2 separate regions of the Homo sapiens genome follow, and region 2 is linked to region 1. The links come from fine-mapping of genetic effects on gene expression. A gene starts in region 1. The other region holds a variant in brackets. All regions are shown on one strand. Distances are from middle to middle. Region 1 holds the start of STAU2 (staufen double-stranded RNA binding protein 2). Region 2 overlaps STAU2 (staufen double-stranded RNA binding protein 2).

The links. PIP is the estimated chance that this variant, and not a neighbour inherited with it, causes the effect.
Region 2: its variant is fine-mapped to the expression of STAU2 in whole blood (TOPMed, PIP above 0.99).

Annotation. Positions count from the first base shown.
Region 1 is chr8:73,741,488-73,751,261 of GRCh38, forward strand. It overlaps STAU2 (staufen double-stranded RNA binding protein 2), which reads right to left and starts at 5,353. Exons shown (of 15, transcript NM_001164380.2): 1 at 5,296-5,353. RefSeq lists silencers at 4,756-4,815, 4,926-5,105, 5,396-5,485, 5,566-5,855.
Region 2 is chr8:73,630,424-73,640,197 of GRCh38, forward strand. The region is part of intron 6 of STAU2 (staufen double-stranded RNA binding protein 2); the gene reads right to left. Among named protein-coding and RNA genes, the nearest start is that of STAU2, 110 kb to the right of the region's middle. The variant G/A (reference allele first, on the strand shown) is at 3,823.

The DNA of each region.
Region 1 (9,774 bases):
TACCTTTTTGAAAGTTCTAACCTTTTTTTTTTTCTTTTTTTTTGAGACGGAGTCTTGCCCTGTCACCCAGAGTGGAGTGCAACAGCTCAATCTCAGCTCACTGCAACCTCCACCTACCAGGCTCAAGTGATTCTCCTGCCTCAGACTCCCCAGTAGCTGGGGATACAGGTACACACCACCATGCCTGGCTAATTTTTGTATTTTTTGTAGAGACGGGGTTTCACCATGTTGGCCAGGCTGGTCTCGAACTCCTGGCCTCGGGTGATCCATCTGCCTCGGCCTCCCAAAGTGCCAAGATTACAGGCGTGAGCCACCACGCCCGGCCCGAAACTTCTAGTCTTCTGACACGGAAAAGATATTCCATGAAGTAACAAAAAATAAAACTTTATGAACATAAAATTAACCATACGATTTAAATATTCTGTAAGCCTTTTCTTTACAATATAAAGAGCTGTAGAAATTAAAACACATGAAACTAATGTCTATAACAGCACTCTGTAATTGGCTAACATTCTGAAAATTATACTTTTTTAAGCAAACCAGTTATTTTAGATTTACATCAATTTAAAAATTGTAGTTTGTAATTATACCATGGACAATTCAGAATGTTCACAGTGGCACGTCTTTAAGACTCTGTTTCTACTTTAAAGACACGCCCAGTCTACTGTCACATATTTTAAACAATTTGCTAAAATATCAAGACATATCAATAAAATGCAGAGCAGTTTTATACTACCTTTGGTTTCATAAAATCCACCTCCTCAGCTGGGTGTGGTGGCTCACGCCTGTAATCCCAGCACTTTTGGAGTCTGAGGCGGACGGATCACCTGAGGTCAGGAGTTCGAGACTAGCCTGGCGAACACGGCAAAATCGTCTCTACTAAAAATACAAAAATTAGCCAGGCATGGAGGCACGCACCTGTAGTCCAGGTACTCAGGAGGCTGAGGCAGGTGAATCGCTTGAACCCAGGAGGCGGAGGCTGCAGTGAGTGGAGATTGCGCCACTGCACTCTAGCCTGGGTGACAGAGTAAGACTCCATCTCAAAAAATAAAAATAATTAAAAAAAAAATCCACCTCCTCTATCACAAAAGTTTCCAGCTACAGTTGATTCCAATTACAACTAAGCGCTTTTAGAGAAATGTATCCATGCGTCCCAAAAATGCCCTATCTGGTCAGGCATATGAAGACAGGCAATTCTAGATTCCAAACTACTAAATGAAAACAAGCAGGATTATAGGGAGACGGCTGGGGAAGACGTGATGCTCATGAAGAATGGCCCAACCTGTAACTGCAATGTACTGCTGATATAAGTCGTACTTTAATTATGAATTACATTTTGCCCATCTGAGAAATTAAAAGCTGCACAGAAATCTATATAATCCCCAATAATTAAACTGCTTTATAAAACGGCACTGTTACTAAATATGTATAAATTTTTTATATCAGCACCCATCCTACAGTTGATAGGCAATTCTCACTTAAATGTCTTATTTGACAACATGAAAAGCAAAAAAAATTTACTATCTCTACTCTTAGACTACAAACTGCTACAAAACTATCAATTCAATGCTTATTACTCTAAAAAAGATATACGGTCCTTTAAAGAGCTTTTTAAAATGTTTTTCATTTTGATTTTTCAAAGTGGGTACCCAAAAACACTGCTTTTATGTAAGGAAAACAGAAGTCTTACGCCACAAACTATTCTAGTGGAAAACTCTAAATAACACAGGCCAGAAAAAAAAAAAAGGAAACTAACATTTTTCAGACACCAATTGTATACGCTAGGTGCCACATTTTGCCATTTTTACATCAACTCATTTAATCCTCATCATCTTGGGATGTAGGCATTATCTCCATTTTTCTAGAGGTTGGGTTATTTGCCTACAGTCACATTGCTAGGTTTAGAACGGTTCATTCTGGCCCAAAGTCGTCTTTTCTTCACTATACACCAAATTAAAAAAGACTTGCCTTCTTTTTAATTTTTTTTTTTTTTTTTTTTTTTGAGACGGAGTTCCACTCTTGCTGCCCAGGCTGGAGTGCAATGGGCACCATGTCGGCTCACCGCAAGATCCGCCTCCTGGTTTCAAATGATTCTCCTGCCTCAGCCTCCTGAGTAGCTGCGATTACAGGCATGCGCCACCACGGCCGGCTAATTTTACATTTTTAGTAGAGACGGGGTTTCTCCATGTTCGTCAGGCTGGTCTCGAACCCCCAACCCTCAGGTGATTCACCCACCTCGGCCTCCCAAAGTGCTGGGATTACAAGCATGAGCCACCATGCCCGGACATTTTTTTTTTTTTTTGAGACTGAGTCTCACTCTGTCACCCAGGCTGGAGTGCAATGGCGCCATCTCAGCTCACTGCAACCTCTGCCTCCCGGGTTCAAGCGATTCTCCTGCCTCAGCCTCCCGAGTAGCTGGGATTACAGGCGCGCACCACCACACCCAGCTAATTTTTGTATTTTTAGTAGAGACGGGGTTTCACCATGTTGGCCAGGCTGGTCTCGAACTCCTGACCTCCTGATCCACCTGCCTCGGCCTCCCAAAGTGCTGGGATTACAGGCATGAGCCACCCCACCTGGCCAATTTTTTTTATTTTCTATGATCAGCTTGGTGAAAAATAAAAGATTTGCCTTCTTATAATTTTTCCTGGAACAAAGTCAAGGGCTTGACCTCTAGGACAACATAATGGCAAAGCTCCTATATAGAACTTGGGGAGGATTATTTAAAATCAAACGATGCACACATAAATAAAAATGATAATTATTACTGATTCTAGACATCTAGTATTTTGTGTACCTATAAGAGGCACAAATATATCTATATGTGAATAATCATACTGTGCGTGTCTCAAACTATGCAGTCTAAGAGAATTCAATTTTGCAGTATCTAGAGTTTTCCCTCTTTATTATGATCTGTACCTATAAATGATCAGATTCCCAGCACTGAACGTGCACAAAACAAGATAATAATAGGAATAAAGAGAAGGGTAGGCACAAAGGAAAAAAAAAAAAAAACCTACCATATCTTCTAGAACCTAAACAGGAAAACCGCTCTGCCTCGATTTCTGGATTGTTTGTATATTTAAAAGCTTGATGACTATCTTAGATTTTTTTTATATTCATACTATTTGTTGAAAAGCAAACCAAGCCACTCTTCCTAGCACTTCATTCCAGACAAGCCAAGTAAGCTAAAATGTAAAATTTGCATGGTTTTCCAAGCTCAAGTATTTAGGAGTTAAGGATCACAATGTATGTAACTTACCCTTAAATGGTCCAGGGGAAAAATATTTTGTGTGTGATAGAGAGCAAATAATAAATACATAAAATGTTAACAGGTGAATCTGAATAAAGGTTACAAAGATTTTCTTTGTATTATTCTTATTCTTGCCATTTGTCTGTAAGCTTGAAATTATTTCCAAATAAAGTTAAAATTTAAAAATTACACAGCATTTTATTTGAAATTAACAATACATACTTGGATTACACAGCAACATTCTTACAAATACAAAACACTGGTTTTTATGGGGAAAAATGCAGTAATTTGTGAGCAAGTATGTACCATATCCTACCAACTTATCATCACTTAGGAATAAATTTCAGACTAGCCTACCATATAATAAAATATGGCAATAGTGACTTGACTTGAAACCATAGCAGGAAAACACAAACACACCAGATAGTTTGGCATAACTGCTTCGCAAATTTAATACAGGCCTGCTGCAAAATGCAGCAATCTACAATTAAAGTGTTATGTGATATCTCTTGTTTGCAGTAAGATACAAACTGAACAATGAAAATCTGGCCATACTACAAAACAGAGATGGAGAGTAAGTCTTGGTTTTGGTAGTTTTATTAAATAAGATTTTTCCACCGCAGCTGAGTTCACAACAGTGTACTTGAATCATCTAAAGAAAGCAAGGACGGGGAAGAAATATCCTGGAGAAATGTTGAAATCTTTTCTCCTCCAAGGTTACTATCACCCTGCCTGTCCATCACAATTTTGATTTCAAGTATTCACGATGCTGGTCTGAAACACAGGATGCATCAGAAGCCAAGTAATGCTCAGCAAAAGTTCACCAAAATTGTGAAAGCAAACATTAAATAAAAAACGTTTTCAATTAACAGTAAAATATCTTTAAAGGATCATCTCTAGCCTTTCTTTCTGCAGGATCCACCCACTTTAAAATCCTTTGGTAAATTCCCAGGTCTACCCTAATTGAATGGTCCCTCTCTATCTGCTCAAGCAGTTCTTAACCCTTTGGAGTGGGGATGGGGGTAAGGGGACATCACAGCAAATATGGACCCTTACCAAAGAAAATTATTCACAAATGCAAAATTCTACACACATTTCCAAAGACTTCCAGAATCCCACGGCCATTACCCCCACCGCCTCCCTAAGAATCCCAGAGTGGCGTGCTTCTCAATGGCCTCTGCGGAGCACCCCCAGCCCCCAAGCCACAGCCCCCGGCTCGACCCCGAAGAGACTAGAGTTCCTGCTCTCACACAGCGGATTCCGTAACTGAGCTTTGTCTCCTCGCCCAACTCCCTTCACCCCGGCAAGGTCACTACCGCCAACTACCCCTTTAAGCCGAGCCATCACGGTAGGAGTTCGTAACAGCCACAGCAGAACTTGCCTGTCATAGGATATATTTTGTCCCCTCGGCCCCACCTACCCTCCCCATTTCGGCAAGTTACGTCTTTACCACTAGCCCATTCTACAGAAATAGCTGCCGCCGCCACCCTCCGGCGCGCCCCGGCCCCGCCGCTCCGCCTCCAGCGCCCCCAGGCCCATTTCCCGCAGACCCTCCCCGGGCCGCCCTCCCCTGCCCTACTCTAGGCGCTCCCTCTCCCTCGCAGCCACACCGTGGCTGCACTCGCCGTCCTCTCTTCCGGCCGCTACCACCCCGGCCCCCTAGAACCCCAGCCTCCCGCGCCCGCAGCCGCGTTCCTGTCTCCCCGACCTCCGCACCCCCACTTGGCCCGGCCTCCTCGCCTTCCTCCCGGCTCCTCCCCTCAGGACACCTGTGTCGTCCCACCCCCTCCACCACACACGCACCCCCCACCCCAATTCCTTCGCCTCCCTGTCCTCCCTCCCCCGCCGGTCTCCCCTCCCCGCTGCTGCCCCGAGAGCCCGATGTGGGAGGGAAGGCGCGGGGGAGGGGAGGCCGCGAAGGGGGCTGCTTTTCTCCGGGTTCCCCGTGCTGCGGAACTGCAGGGCTCCCCAGCGCCCTCTGCCTTCTTCGCCGGCGGCGCGGAAGTCGGGGTCTCCCGGACGCCCCCGATGAGGGTATTTACCTTCTTGCCGGGGACACTTTGCAGACGGCTCCAACATTGGCAAACACTACAGAGAACTGACCCCGCTCGGCCGCCGCCGGCTTCCACCCCTCGGGCTCCCCGCCCCCCGCCTCCGCCCGCCTCCGCCCGCCTCCCCGGCGCTCCCGCCGCGCCCTCCCGCGCTCGCGCCGCGCGCCCCCGCCTGCGCAGCCGCTCCCGCGCCCCAGCACGCCCGGCCGGCGCGCGCGCCCGGCACCGGCTCTACCTCCACTCCGCCTCCCGCCGGCCCGCGACCAAGCGCGGCCATTGTTCGCGACGCAGCTCCCGCCCCCTGGCGGCTGCCGGGCCCCAGCAGCTGCAGGCTCTGCGGGGCTAGCGGCGGCGAGCTGGGCCCCTGGGCGAGGGCCATTCCCGGGGGGCTTGGGCACGCGGGCGAGCGACTGCGCAAGGAGCGCGCCCGGTCCGCAGTCTCCTCGTCCCCGGCGCGACTCCCCGCCCCCTCGTCTGCCAAGGGTGGGCCTGGGGCAGCCCCTTCCACACCTGCAACTCGGCAACTTCCTTCCCCGCCCGACTGACCGTCTGCTCTTTCTGGTCCGCACCCTGTGCTCTGATTCCCCGCTCGTACCTTTCCCAGGCTCTCCGGCTGCCCCTCTGTGCTGTGCAGGGGACGCGCGACCATCCCGCGTCTGCTCCGGCCGCCGCTGTGCAACGCACGGTTTAGCGGATCTTGCACCTTTCTAGACGGGGGAGGGGGCGGGGAGGAGGTTGCTTCACCGTCTCGCCCAGCAAACACCAGGGATCCGTGATCACCTGCTCGCCAAGACCCGCGGCGTGGCCAGACCTCCTCTTCTACCGAAAATATTAGTCACATGAAAAAGAATCCTTGGAGCCAAAAATGAGAACCATTGAAAACAATGCCCTGAATCCTAGATTTATGAGGCAAGAGTGCCAGAAAACAGAAATTACGTCTTAATTCGTCCTGGTTTTGATGTGGATTACTTTTGTCTAGATAACTTCAACCCAGTTAAGCTCAATGAAACTGAACACTTCGTTTAGTAACCGGCACCAAAAATAATCTGACAAAGAAATTTCGAAATAGAACTATTAGTGTGTTTTCACAAACTTACTCGTTTGCAACGTTATTTCTAGGGTTTCTTCCCAGTGTCACTTCTCTGACTGAGAAATGTCTCCCAGGCCGGTGATTTCAGTCATCATCTAAAACCAATCTCATGTCTGCACCTGGGAAGGTAGTGTGTGTCCTGGTTAACCGCAAGGGCGCCAGAGTCAGATAACCAAGGCTGGATATCCGCTTGCTAACTGGTGAGGAGACCACGGGCATGTTACTTATCCTGTGCATCAAGAGGAGACTACATGTGATAGATAGTTCGTATTTAAATGTGACAATACATATGAAGCCCTTTAAATAGGACCGGGTATGTAGTACCTCTCCTGGTACAATGTTAGCTACAGCTATATTTTTCCTCCCAGAACTCTTTCCTATGCTCCTTTCCCCCCTTTTCACCTCTGCCAGTTCCCTCGGATTTAACATGTTGCATCCTCCCTAAATTTGCTGTGCTCCTTCTAGCGGCTTACGCACCCAGTCAGCATTCTAATACAGTCATGCCTTACCTAGCCACAAGGATATGTTCTGAGGAACGTGTCATTAAGCGATTTTTGTTGTTTTGCGCACATCATAGCGTGTTCTTACGCAAACCTAGGTAGTCTAGCCAACTACTTGCTTTGGCTATATGGTATATAGCTATTGCGCCTAGGCTGCAAACCTGTACAGTGTGTTACTGTACTAATACTGTAGGCAATTTTGCAACACAAGGGTATTTGTACCTAAACAGAAAACCTACAGTAAAAGAACTATATAATCTTTTTTTTTTTTGAGACGAAGTCTCGCTCTGTCACCCAGGCTGAAATGCAGTAGCACAATCTCAGCTCACTGCAACCTCCACCTCCCGAGTTCAAGCAATTTTCCTGCCTCAGCCTCCCTGGTAGCTGGGATTACAGGCACATGCCACCACGTCCAGCTAATTTTTGTATTTTTAGTAGAGACGGGGTTTGACCATGTTGGCCACGCTGGTCTCGAACTCTTGACCTCAAGTGATTCCCCGCCGGCCCCCCCCCCCCCCGCCCCTCCCCACCACCTCGGCCTCCCAAAGTGCTGGGATTGCAGGCGCCCGGCTTAAAGAACTGTATAATCTTATGGGACCACCGTTGTATATGCAGTCCACCTGTCCATCATTGACTGAAAGAAGTTGACCAGAAATTGTTGAATATTTTGAATGAATACCTTACTTTCCCACCAGCCATACCAAGGGTCAAGCTGCCTACCTCTGTGTCTTTCCATAGGCTATTCTCTCTCCCTTCAGGCTACCCTTCTCTCGCCTGGTGAACAAATAATCTTTCACGGCATTCAAAAATCACCTTCTTGGCCGGGTGTGGTGGCTCACACCTGTAACCTCAGCACTTCGGGAGGCCGAAGCGGGCAGACCACGAGGTCACGAGTTTGAGACCAGCCTGGCCAACATGGTGAAACTCCATCTCTACTAAAAATACAAAAATTAGCTGGGCGTGGTGGCACACACCTGTAATCCCAGCTACTTGGGAGGCTGAGGCAGGAGAATTGCTTGAACTCGGGAGGCAGAGGTTGCAGTGAGCTGAGTTCGAGCCACTGCACTCTAGCCTGGGCAGCAGAGCAAGACTCCATCTCAAGAAAAAAAAGAAAAAAAATCACCTCCTTGAGAGGCATTCTCTAACACTCCTCTGAGCAGGCGAGTGCTCTTCTCTTGTACCTCTCTTCTCTGATATTGTAGGTATGTTAGAATTTTTTTTTTTAGCCTGTCTGTATCTACCAAACATTGCATTGTTGAAGGGCAGGCTCTGTGTCTCATGCATATCTGTAGTCCCAGCATCCAACAGCAAGTAGGTGGACGGTAAATCCTTTGGTATAAATGGATGAGTTTATACTTTTGGAAAGAACTCTGGGGTGGTCAGATTTCATTCTCTTTGATTCAGATCCTTAAAGTTAATTGAAAACTTTATCCCTCCCGTAACTGTTCCTCATAACTGATTTTCAGTCATTGGTAAACCCCAAATAGAATGAATTTTTCTAAGTCACAATTATCAGAAAGGAAATTGTTTTTTAATTGAATCAGCACTTTCAGTTGCTCAAGGTATATAGTATCAGTACATGAAATCACCTGAGTGACATGGAAATCCACACATCACTCTACAATCATTTTAGGATTTACTTTAAAATAAAATATTTGTATAGGAGTTGAAAATAATGAATATTTAAAGAGCGGTGGGCCAGCCGGCTGTGGTGGCTCACGTCTATAATCCCAGCACTTTGGGAGGCTAGCGTATCACCTGAAGTCAGGAGTTCGAGACCAGCCTGGGCAAAATGGCAAAAACCCCATCTCTACTAAAATTAGAAAAACTACCTGGGCGTGGTGGTGCGTGCTTGTAGTCCCAGCTACTCAGGAGGCTGAGGTGGGAGGATCACTTGAGCCTGGGAGGCAGAGGTTGGAGTGAGCTGAGATCACACTACTGCACTCCAGCCAGGGCCACAAAGAAAGACCCTGTATCAAAAAATATAAATAAATAAAGAACAGTGGGCCTATTAATAGGCAGCTGATTAAAGCAAATGAGGCCAGGCGCAGTGGCTCATGCCTGTAATCCCAGCACTTTGAAAAGCCAAAGAGGGAGGATCTCTTGAAACCAGGGGTTTGAAACCAGCGTGGGCAGTAAAGTGAGACCCCACCTCCATTTAATTAAAAATAAATTTAAAATTAAATTTTTTTTTAAAAAGCGTCTGTTTTATCAACACATTTTTACCAGTCACCATTGCAGTGAAATGTTCAAGCATCAGGAAAAAGATAATGCTTTCAAATTCACCATTATCGGATTTGAGCAGTTTGAATGGGACAGATTCCAGAATCACAAACTCCAGTTTCCTTCTATGTCCTCTTCTTTCTTATATTATATCTTATATTATGATGCCCTTTTCTTGACATTTATTTTCCTGTAAAATTCATCTAGCCCCCAGCACCCACCATAGAAGTTACCCTCCTTTATTGATGATATCTGAATTTTTTTAAATTCTTTTTTTGAGACAGAGTTCTTGCTCTCGCCCAGGTTAGAGTACAGTGGTACAATCTTGGTTCACTGCAACCTCTGCCTGCAGGGTGCAAGCGATTCTCATGCCTCAGCCTTCTGAGTAGCTGGGATTACAGGCATGTGCCATCAGGCTTGGCTAATTTTTGTATTTTTGGTAGAGACAGTTTGTTTTGCCATGTTGCCCAGACTGGTCTTGAACTCCGGGCCTCAAGTTATCTGCCCTCCTCGGCCTCCCAAAGTGCTGGCATTACAGGAATGAGCCACTGCATGGCCCTGAATTTATTTTTATCACTACACACTATTTATGTGTTTCTTCTACTATATCTTAAGCTCCTTGAAGGCAACAACAATGACTTTCTCTTCTTTGTTTCT
Region 2 (9,774 bases), 110 kb before region 1:
AAGAGGCTGAAGTAATACTTAGAGCTTTGAAAGGCTAACAGTTTTGGCCTCGGGTTATGATGGTTTACTCCTGTTCACAATACAGATACGTGTATTTTAGTCACACTAAATACAAAGTGTGGCCAAAGACATTCTTTTCTGTGGACAAAATAGTTTTTGAAGATATTCTGAAATAACTCAGTCATCATGACATCCTACTATTCCCAAAGAGTGGATGTTGACATGAGTTAGTGTAGCATAGCAGAAAAAGCACGAGCTTTGATGACATATTACTCCTGGGCTGGAGGGCCAGCTCAGCCCTTTACTAGCTGTGTCACCCTATGCAAGATACATGCTGTGTCAGAACATAGTAGCCCCAGGAAATCATAGTTGTTGGCCTCTTTCCCTCTTGACAACTAATCCATCAGCCTTCTTTGATATTCTACAATGTTTCTATGAAGCTGCAGCATCTCTAAAGCTTTTGGTTATTCCCTGTAAAGAATACCCTTAGCTGTGGTTATGCTGGCAGAATCTCTAGACTTTCATTTCACACGCTCAGTGGCACCCCTAGTTTCCCATTAGCGCTTGTACCATACCCGGGAGAACATCACTTCATGCCTGTCTAGGAGATCTGACATTTGGTTCATTGGTCACTCAAGAATGCCAATCTAGGCCAGGCACAGTGGCTCACACCTATAATCCCAGCACTTTAGGAGGCCAAGGCAGGAGGATCACTTGAGGCCAGGAGTTTGAGACCAGCCTTGCCAAAATAGCAAGACTGTCTCTACAAAAAACATAAAAAATTATCTGGGCATGGTGGTACACCCTTGTAGTTCCAGCTACTCAGAAGCGGAGGCAGGAGCATTGCTTGAGCCCAGGAATTCAAGGGTACAGTGAGCTCAGCATCAAATGTACCCTTGCGGTTTGAGTACCACTGCACTCCAGCCTAGGCAATAGAGTGAGACCTCATCTCTTAAAAAAAAAAAAAAGAGGAATAAAAAATGAACACCAATGCAGTTCAAAACACCAAGCAGTGTGCAGAAGATAAGCTGATAAATTCAGATACTATAAAAACCAGTAGAAATCAACTAAATAAGCCTCTGGAAGAATTTAATGTAAAATAATAAATAACATTACTACAATTTTTAAAAATTGTAAAGGCCATTTATTTACATGTTTGGGGTTCTGTTCTACACAGACTGTTCTGTATAGACTGTTCTGTGACCTGTCAGTCAATTACAGTACAGGAGTCTAGTAACTCATTTATCTTTAAAGAAGTGCATCTTGACCAGAGAACATGAGAATGTCAACAAATCATAAGGAAATAAATAAAGCAAGTTGGTCAAGGTCCTTGTAACTGAAGCCAAGAAAAAGCCTGGGAAATTAATGAATAATAAGCTCCCAGGAAACTCAAACTGAGAAAAGCAGTAAGCCATGATGAGAATAATACCTGAGATGATTAAATATATAGTCCAAATATTACTGCCTACGATCCTAAATCTTACCCACCCGCAAAAGAGAACAGCCAAAAAGCTGAAGTTGCTCATTTTTATCTCAATGAGAGAGAGGAGGGATAAGGACGAGGCAAGAAGGGGGGAGGAGAGGGAGGGAGGGAGGGAGGAAGACAGAGGGAGGAAAGGAGAGAGAGACAGCACACGAACACGAGCAAGAGAACAAGGGCAAAAAATACTTGCTGACAGTAGGTATGATATTAAGAATATTGTATTATATTGCATTAGAAATATAGACGATTGAAAGCTGACATAAAGAACTGATTTGGATTTAGAAAAGATCAGAATATAAGATAGTTTTATTTCCATTTTAAAATGAGTATGTAAACAACTATTAAGTTCAGTACATTAAAAAAAAAAAAAGTCTTGCTGCCTTTATTGATTTGGAGAAAGCCTGCCACATACTCTTACAAAGACAGGATGTCAAGCAAACCAATAAGTCATTCAAACCCAGTGTATATAAGGTTCCTTAAGTATTTGAGGAATCAACATGGAGAATTCTGAAAATCTGAGACCCACATGGGAGTAAAGAAAGAATGCATCTTAAGCAAATTTTACTTATTGTTCTCTTTGTTATCCTGAAAAAGTCACTCAAGAGAACAAAAAAGGGTTTGCAAATAAGACCATATAATCCTATTTGCAGAGGATGACACTTCTTATGAGACTTAGAAACCTGCAATACAATCTGAGCTTATAAGACTGAGAACTCCAAAGCAGGAGAGTGATCAAGACTGACAAGAGTATGACCATGGTGATCTCTCAGGAAGCTAAAATCACCCCAGTTATGCATAAGAAATTCTGGCCAGAAACTGAACACTTCAGAGCTGGTGAACTCATGATAAAATCAAACAGATGAAGAGCTAAACTTATAATCTTAGTTGTCACTTGACTCTTGTTTAATCAAAATGTAATTCTAATATAATCAAAATAAGTATATCCTGTTACTTCTCAAATTTAGAAAGGCCAGACTCCCCTGCAAATGCTTGAGAACCCTGTATTAGACCTCATAGTTCCTCAACAAAGGGAAAAGTTTAGAGTAAATGATACGCATGCTATTCCAGGAATAGTGTTCTAGGAAGGCTACAAAAGGGACAATTTCTGCTTATACACAGGGAAAAAGGGAGTTGTATTCACTGCAGCCCTAGTGTATGGTATCCAGCATGATACCTAGCACTTAAAAGGAGTCCACTACATATCTGTTAAATGAAGGAGAGGTTATAGCTAACAATTACTGAGTGGTTTACTATATGCCGGCACTGAGCATGCAGTAACTCATCTAATCCTCACAATAGCCTGATAAGGCAAATACATATTGTTATCATTTCCATTTTACAGTTGAGGAAACTGAAAAACAGAGAAGATAAGTTGCTTGGCCTAGGCGGAACCAGGTTTCAAATGAAGATAGAGTGGCTCCACAGCACCCCCTAACCTCAATACTACATTACTATATTCCTCTCAACTTAAAAGTGAATGATTGCAAGGGAGAGACAGGACCAGCAAGGGCCAGGTTCTCAGCTATGTGGGAGTAAAGCAATCAGGACTAGCAGAAGGACAAGTTCAAAGTGAAAGGATGCATGTGAGATCTGAATGGGGAAGTGCTGGGAGTGAATGTACTTTGTGACTATAGACTCCAAGTACCTCTTAACATTGGGCATGATCTGACCTTGAGGCGGCTACAAGATGAGGATGGGCTAGATCAGTGGTTTCATCTTTGCCTATATACCGGAAGTACATGAGGAGCTTTAAAAAATACTGAGGACAAGTCAGTAAGAAAAAGACCACTGAGGCCAGGCACGGTGGCTCATGCTTGTAATCCCAACACTTTGGGAGGCCGAGGCGGCTGGATCACCTGAGGCCAGGAGTTCAAGACCAGTCTGGACAACATGGTGAAACCCCATTTCTACTAAAAATACAAAAATTAGCCAGGCGTGGTGGTGGGTGCCTGTAATCCCAGCTACTCAGGAGGCTGAGGCAGAACTGCTTGATCCCAAGAGACAGAAGTTGCAGTGAGCCGAGATCATGCCACGGAACTCCAGCCTGAGTGACAAAGCGAGACTCCATCTCAAAAAAAAGAAAAAGACTACTGAATCAGCACAAAAACTAGCACAGGTTATACACTTACAGACCACAGAAAAGGAAATATAAATGATTTTATGCATATGAGAAGATGTTTGACCTCATTCATAATCAAAGAAATGCAAATTAAAATGCCAAAGAGGTATCATTCTTCACCTAATTATATTGGTAAAAAACTCCAAAACATTCAAAACAGCCTCGTCTCTAGTCTAGATTATTGTAATAACCTCCCAACTGCTCTCTTAATCAGCAAAAC[G/A]GTTTTTATTTATTTATTTATTTATTTTTTGCTCAAAACCTGCGTTGGCCGGGGTGGGCGGATCACGAGGTCAAGAGATTGAGACCATCCTGGTCAACATGGTGAAACCCCATCTCCACTAAAAATACAAAAATTAGCTGGGTGTGGTGGCACACACCTGTAATCCCAGCTCCTTGGGAGGCTGAGGCAGGAGAATCATTTGAACCTGGGAGGCAGAAGACATAGTAAGCTGAGATTGCGCCACTGCACTCCAGCCTGGCAACAGAGTGAGACACCGTCTCAAAAAAACAAAAAATAAAAAAACCTACATTGGTTTTGCATTTCATTCATAGTAGCCAGAATCTTTACAATGGCCTACAAGGCCTTACATAAATCAGGCTCCCAGTCACATCTCTGGCTTCTTCTACCACTCACCTCTTCACTTACTCTTCTCTAGCCACACTAGTCTCCTTTCTGCTCCTCAAACTCACCATATAAGCCTCCACGTTAGGGCCTTTACAATGGCTGATCTCCTGCTTCTCCCTCAGACATCCTCAAGGCTCACTCTCTCACCTTCTTAAAGTCTTCGCTCAAATCTCACCTCTCAGCAAGACCTAATTCAAATTGTGATTCCCATCCTTTTACTCAAACAGGGCTCTATTCTTCCTATATAAGCACTTTTCACTTTCTAATCTACTATACAATGTACTTGTATTTATTTTTTATTTTCTATCTCCCCCAACTAGAATGTACACTTCATGAGGACAGAAATGTCTGTTGATGTACTCCAAGTACCCATAAGAATGTCTCACCACGTGTATGTATAAAGATACATTCTGCAACACTGATAACATCAGAAGATTCAAAACAACTAAATGTCCATGAATACAGGACTAAGAAGTTAAATAAATTACAGAGAAATCACACAGTGGGATACTAAACCGTTCTTAAATAAATAAAGCAGTAACCCTATTTCCAGTATGGCCAAGTAAACTCTCACTGAACTGATTCTCCTGCAGGAAACAATAAATTCTGAACAAACTGTAAAAAAACAATCATCTAAAGGTACCAAAAAGTCAATGAAACAGGTGGACACTGGAGGCAAGTTAACATCTGGAAAAAAAGAACAGCATAGGATGCATTTCTCTCCCTTTTTTTTCTTTTAATAGCTTGAATTTGAAGGCAAGCCCATCTATTCCATGTGAAATAGCTAAAATGCCACTGGAAAATAGTCATACTGGTTTGAAGACCCAGCGATAAGGGCTCATATTCCAAAGCCCCTGGAATATGGAGGAGGAAATATTAGAAATAAAAATCTGAGGCCGAGGGCGGTGGCTCATGCCTGTAATCCCAGCACTTTTGGAGGCCAAGGTGGGTGGATCATGAGGTCAGGAGTTTGAGACCAGCCTGGCCAATATGGTGAAACCCCATCTCTATTAAAAATTTAAAAATTAGCCAGGCATGGTGGCAGGCAACTGTAATCCCAGCTACTCGGGAGGCTGAGGCAGAAGAATTGCTTGAACCCAGGAGGCAGAGGTTGCAGTGAGCCGAGACCGCGCCACTGCACTCCAGCTTGGGCAACAGAGTAAGGCTCCGTCTAAATAAATAAATAAATAATCTGGAGAGAGAGGGAGCTTCATATTCTATGTATAAAACTGTTCGAATCTCTATCTGACCCCTGAACCACACACACACACACACACACACACACACACACACACACACACCCCTGGAACCAATTCAAAGAAATTTAGCTACGAGATTAGAATTTGAGGTGCCTGCCACCCAATGCAGAAAAGTTTTGTTGAGACCCCAGCCAACTAACTGCCTGCCTAAAAAATTTTTTTGGCCAGGCATAGTGGCTCACGCCTATAATCCTAACACCTTTGGGAGGCCAAGGCGGGAAGATTGCTTGAACCCAGGAGTTAGAGACCAGGCTGGGCAACATAGCAAAACCCCATATCTATAAAGATAAGACAACAAAACCCCATATCTACAAAAAATTAGCTGGGCATGGCAGCATGTGCCTATAGTCCTAGCTACTCAGGAGGCGGAGGTGGGGGGATCACCTGAGCCTGGGAGGTGGAGGTTGCAGTGAGCCAAGATTGCACCACTGCACTCCAGCCTGGGTGACAGAGTGAGGGCCTGTCTAAAACATACACACACACACATACACACACTTCACAGGAACATAATAGAATCTAGGTTCTACAACATATAATTTTACAATGTCCAGAATACAATCCAAAATTATTCAACATATGAAACAGGAAAAAATGATCCATTCTCAAGAGAAAAAAAACTGTAAGCAGAAAACTACCCTGAAATGACCGAGATGTTAGAATTAGCAGCAAAGGGCCGGGTGTGGTGGCTCATGCCTGTAATCCCAGCACTTTGGTAGGCTGGGGTGGGTGGGTCACTTGAGGCTATGAGTTCGAGACCAGCCTCACCAACATGGCAAAATCCTGTCTCTACTAAAAATATAAGAATTAGCCGAGTGTGGTGGCACACAGCTGTAATCCCAGCTACTCAGGAGGCTGAGGCATGAGAATCGCTTGAACCTGGGAGGCAGAGGTTACAGTGAGCCAAGATCACACCACCGCACTCCAGCCTGGGTGACAGAGGAGACTCTGTATTCAAAAAAAAAAAAAAAGGAACTAACAGCAAAGTTATACTATGTTCAAAGAGATCAAAGAAAATATGCTTTTAATGAATAAATGTATGGAGAATTTCAGCAGAGAACAGTAATTATAAAAAGTAGCCAAACAAATTCTAGAATATGATATTCAAATTTAAAATTCACTGGATAGACATAATAGCCAAAAGGAGATGACCAAGGAATTAAGATTAATCAACAGAAATTATACTACCTAACTATTAGAAAAAAAGAAGTTAAAAAAATGAACTGAAGCTTAGGGACCTGTTAGACAAAATTAAAAATAATTAAAATTAAAAAAAAGGTCTAACAGAAGGAGAGGAGGAAAAGGGGGGAACAGAAAAATATTAAAAGACCTAAGACCCAAAAATTTCCTTTGGTAAAAGGCATATTTACATATTCAAGAAGCTCAGTGAACTAGATTAATATAAAGAAAACCACACAAGATATGTTATAGTTTAACTGCTAAAAGCTAAAAAGACATATTATTTATGGGGAGCAACAATTCAAATGATGGATGACTTCTCAAGAGAAAAAATCTGAGGCCAGGAGACAAGTGGAACAACATCTTTAAAGTCTTTATAAAGTGCTGAAAGTAAAAAAAAAAAAAAAAAAAAAAAAAAAAGAAAAGAAAAAAAAGAAAAACTGTCAACTCCGAATTCTATATTCAATGAAAATATCTTCAAAACTGAAGGCAAAATAAAGATGTTTTCAGTAAACAAAAATTCAGAGAAATCATTGCCAGAAGACCTGCACTACAGGAAATACTAAAGGGTGTTCAAACTGAAGAGAAGTAAAGCCAGACAGAAATCTGGATCTTCAGAGAAAACAAAAACAAAAACAAACACAAACACAAAAACAAAACAAAAAAAGGGAAATGATAGATATGTGGGCAAATAAATTCAAGACCTTTTTCTCTTAATTTCTTTAAGATATAGACTAAAGCAAAAAATCATAACATTGTGGAAGTTATGATCTATATAAATGTAATACAAATGACATCTATATATGGGGTGGGAGTTAAATAGACCTATATGGTTGCAGGGTTTCTAAAATTTTCATAATCAGTTTAGAAAAAATAATGCAGCTTCTTACATACTGACATGGAATGCTGTTTAAGGTATTTTTCAAAGGAAAAAAAAACAGATTCGGAATACTATTACAGAATGATACTTTCTTAAAGTAAATACATATACATATACATATCCAGAGAATATCCTGAAAGGATAATACATGAAACTGGCAGGGGCAGGGGCAAAATTGGGTAACTGGAATGCAGGGGTGGCATAGTATTTACATTAATATTTGAATTTTTTATATTTTATACTGTATAAAATAAATACAAAAAATTAAATACCCACAAAAATAAAAAAGTAAAGGCTCTGAGAACTTCTACAATAAGAAAACGTTTAAATTTTCCTTGATCCAGCATTTTACAAACCTATATGACTATAGGAAACTGACTCCTCTCCCTTTTTCAAATAATAGCTATTTCTATCCCAACAGTGACTGTGTATTGCTTACACCATATTAAAAAACACTTATTTTTTTAAATCAATTTTTTACTAGTTGTACCAACTAAATCTAGTAAGAATATAACCCAGGTCATTTGAAATATTCTTTTTTTTTTTTTTTTTTAAAAAGAGTCCATCAGAGTAACTTCAAATATAATTGCAATTTCACTGGCAGTCTAATAAAATTCCACCCACTAAAGTTCTAGACTTAATATTTTCCAAGACATTCTTAAATTCAGTCACTGTCCCATGCTTACCTGTTTTTAAAAACTCATTAGGTACCTCTGTTATTACTGTCCAAACTGAATGATATCAACTATTTCTGAAAACATAAAAAATTGCTTGTTGAACATACAAATGATTCCATAAGAAGATGCCACAATATATTTTAGTTGCTAAAGATTAATATGAAATGATCACATGACCTGAGTCATATTCTTACTAGATTTAGTTGGTACAAGTAGTAAAAAATTGATTTAAAAAAATGTGTTTTTTAATATGGTGTAAGCAATACCAGTCAGTGTTGCAACAGAAATAGTTGATTAATATGAAATGATATCAACTATTTCTGAAAACATAAAAAACTGCTTGTTGAACATACAAATGATTCCATAAGAAGATGCCACAATATATTTTAGTTGCTAAAGATTAATATGAAATATAACCATTATTTTGATACAAAAAAGAAAAACAAACCCACAAATTCTTGTTAAAGTTCAACAGATATTATTTAAATTGTAGTATCTTGTTTTTAACAATTTAACAGTTTAATAGTGAAAATTTTTTCTATGATACATTAATTTCACTGGTTCGAGTTTCTAAATCCACTTGAAAATTTTCTTTAATAGTATATTTTATTCAATTTATCTTTGTACCTACACTAACAAAGGAAAAAGAATACAATTTGTGAATACCCAGAAATTCCTTAATCATGGAGAATGTATACAATTGTTTCTATGCTCTTTGAAGGGAGGACATGATCCTAGTTTCATTTGTGCTAACAAGGAGAATTTATTACCAAAACATCTGGGAGATGAATGAGATGCTAAAACGAAAGACATGGAAGCCTAGCAACATATTCTAGTCTAGCTAACCCTTCCTAAGAAAAAAAGATAGTACTAATAGTAAGGTGCTAATGAGCCGTACTTGGTACCCTCATGCTCGACAACCTTCTCAGATCACTCAGGTTGAAAATAAACTTCTGTATTACAACTGAAACTAAAAATTACACTGAAAAGGACGTGTTTAGCACCGTAGAGGCTCCTACATATTTAAAGCTACTTCTTTAAAATTCCATGTTTTAGATGTTTGAACAAGACATCAATAATTCCATTATCCTTGTTCTGGTTTGATATTATTTTTATCTCTCCCAAACCATAAAATTTGCAAAAGAAAAAATTCAACTGCAAAATTATTCAATATTTGGAAACGAAAATTTAACAAACCCTCTTAAGAACCAATAAAAGCTATCAAATAGAATACAAATAGATACATAAAATTTTATACACTGGTAACAGCATTCAAATCAAAGAGGTGAAGTATTCTAAGAATATTTACTCCAGTTGTGTTAGGAACAAACTAAATTATGACTTCCTCGGGCCAACTAAATCCAGTAAGAATAACATTCTGTTGCTAATATGATCATATGAAATAATTATTTTTAAAAAGAACTTAGCCTATCAAAGTCAACTTCAAATATAAAAAGTGTTCCCCATCAATCAACTGTATAGAAACAATATAAAATTATTCAAGATTTATTTTACAAAGATACTTCTCAAACCCAAGTGCTTCCTATAATAATAC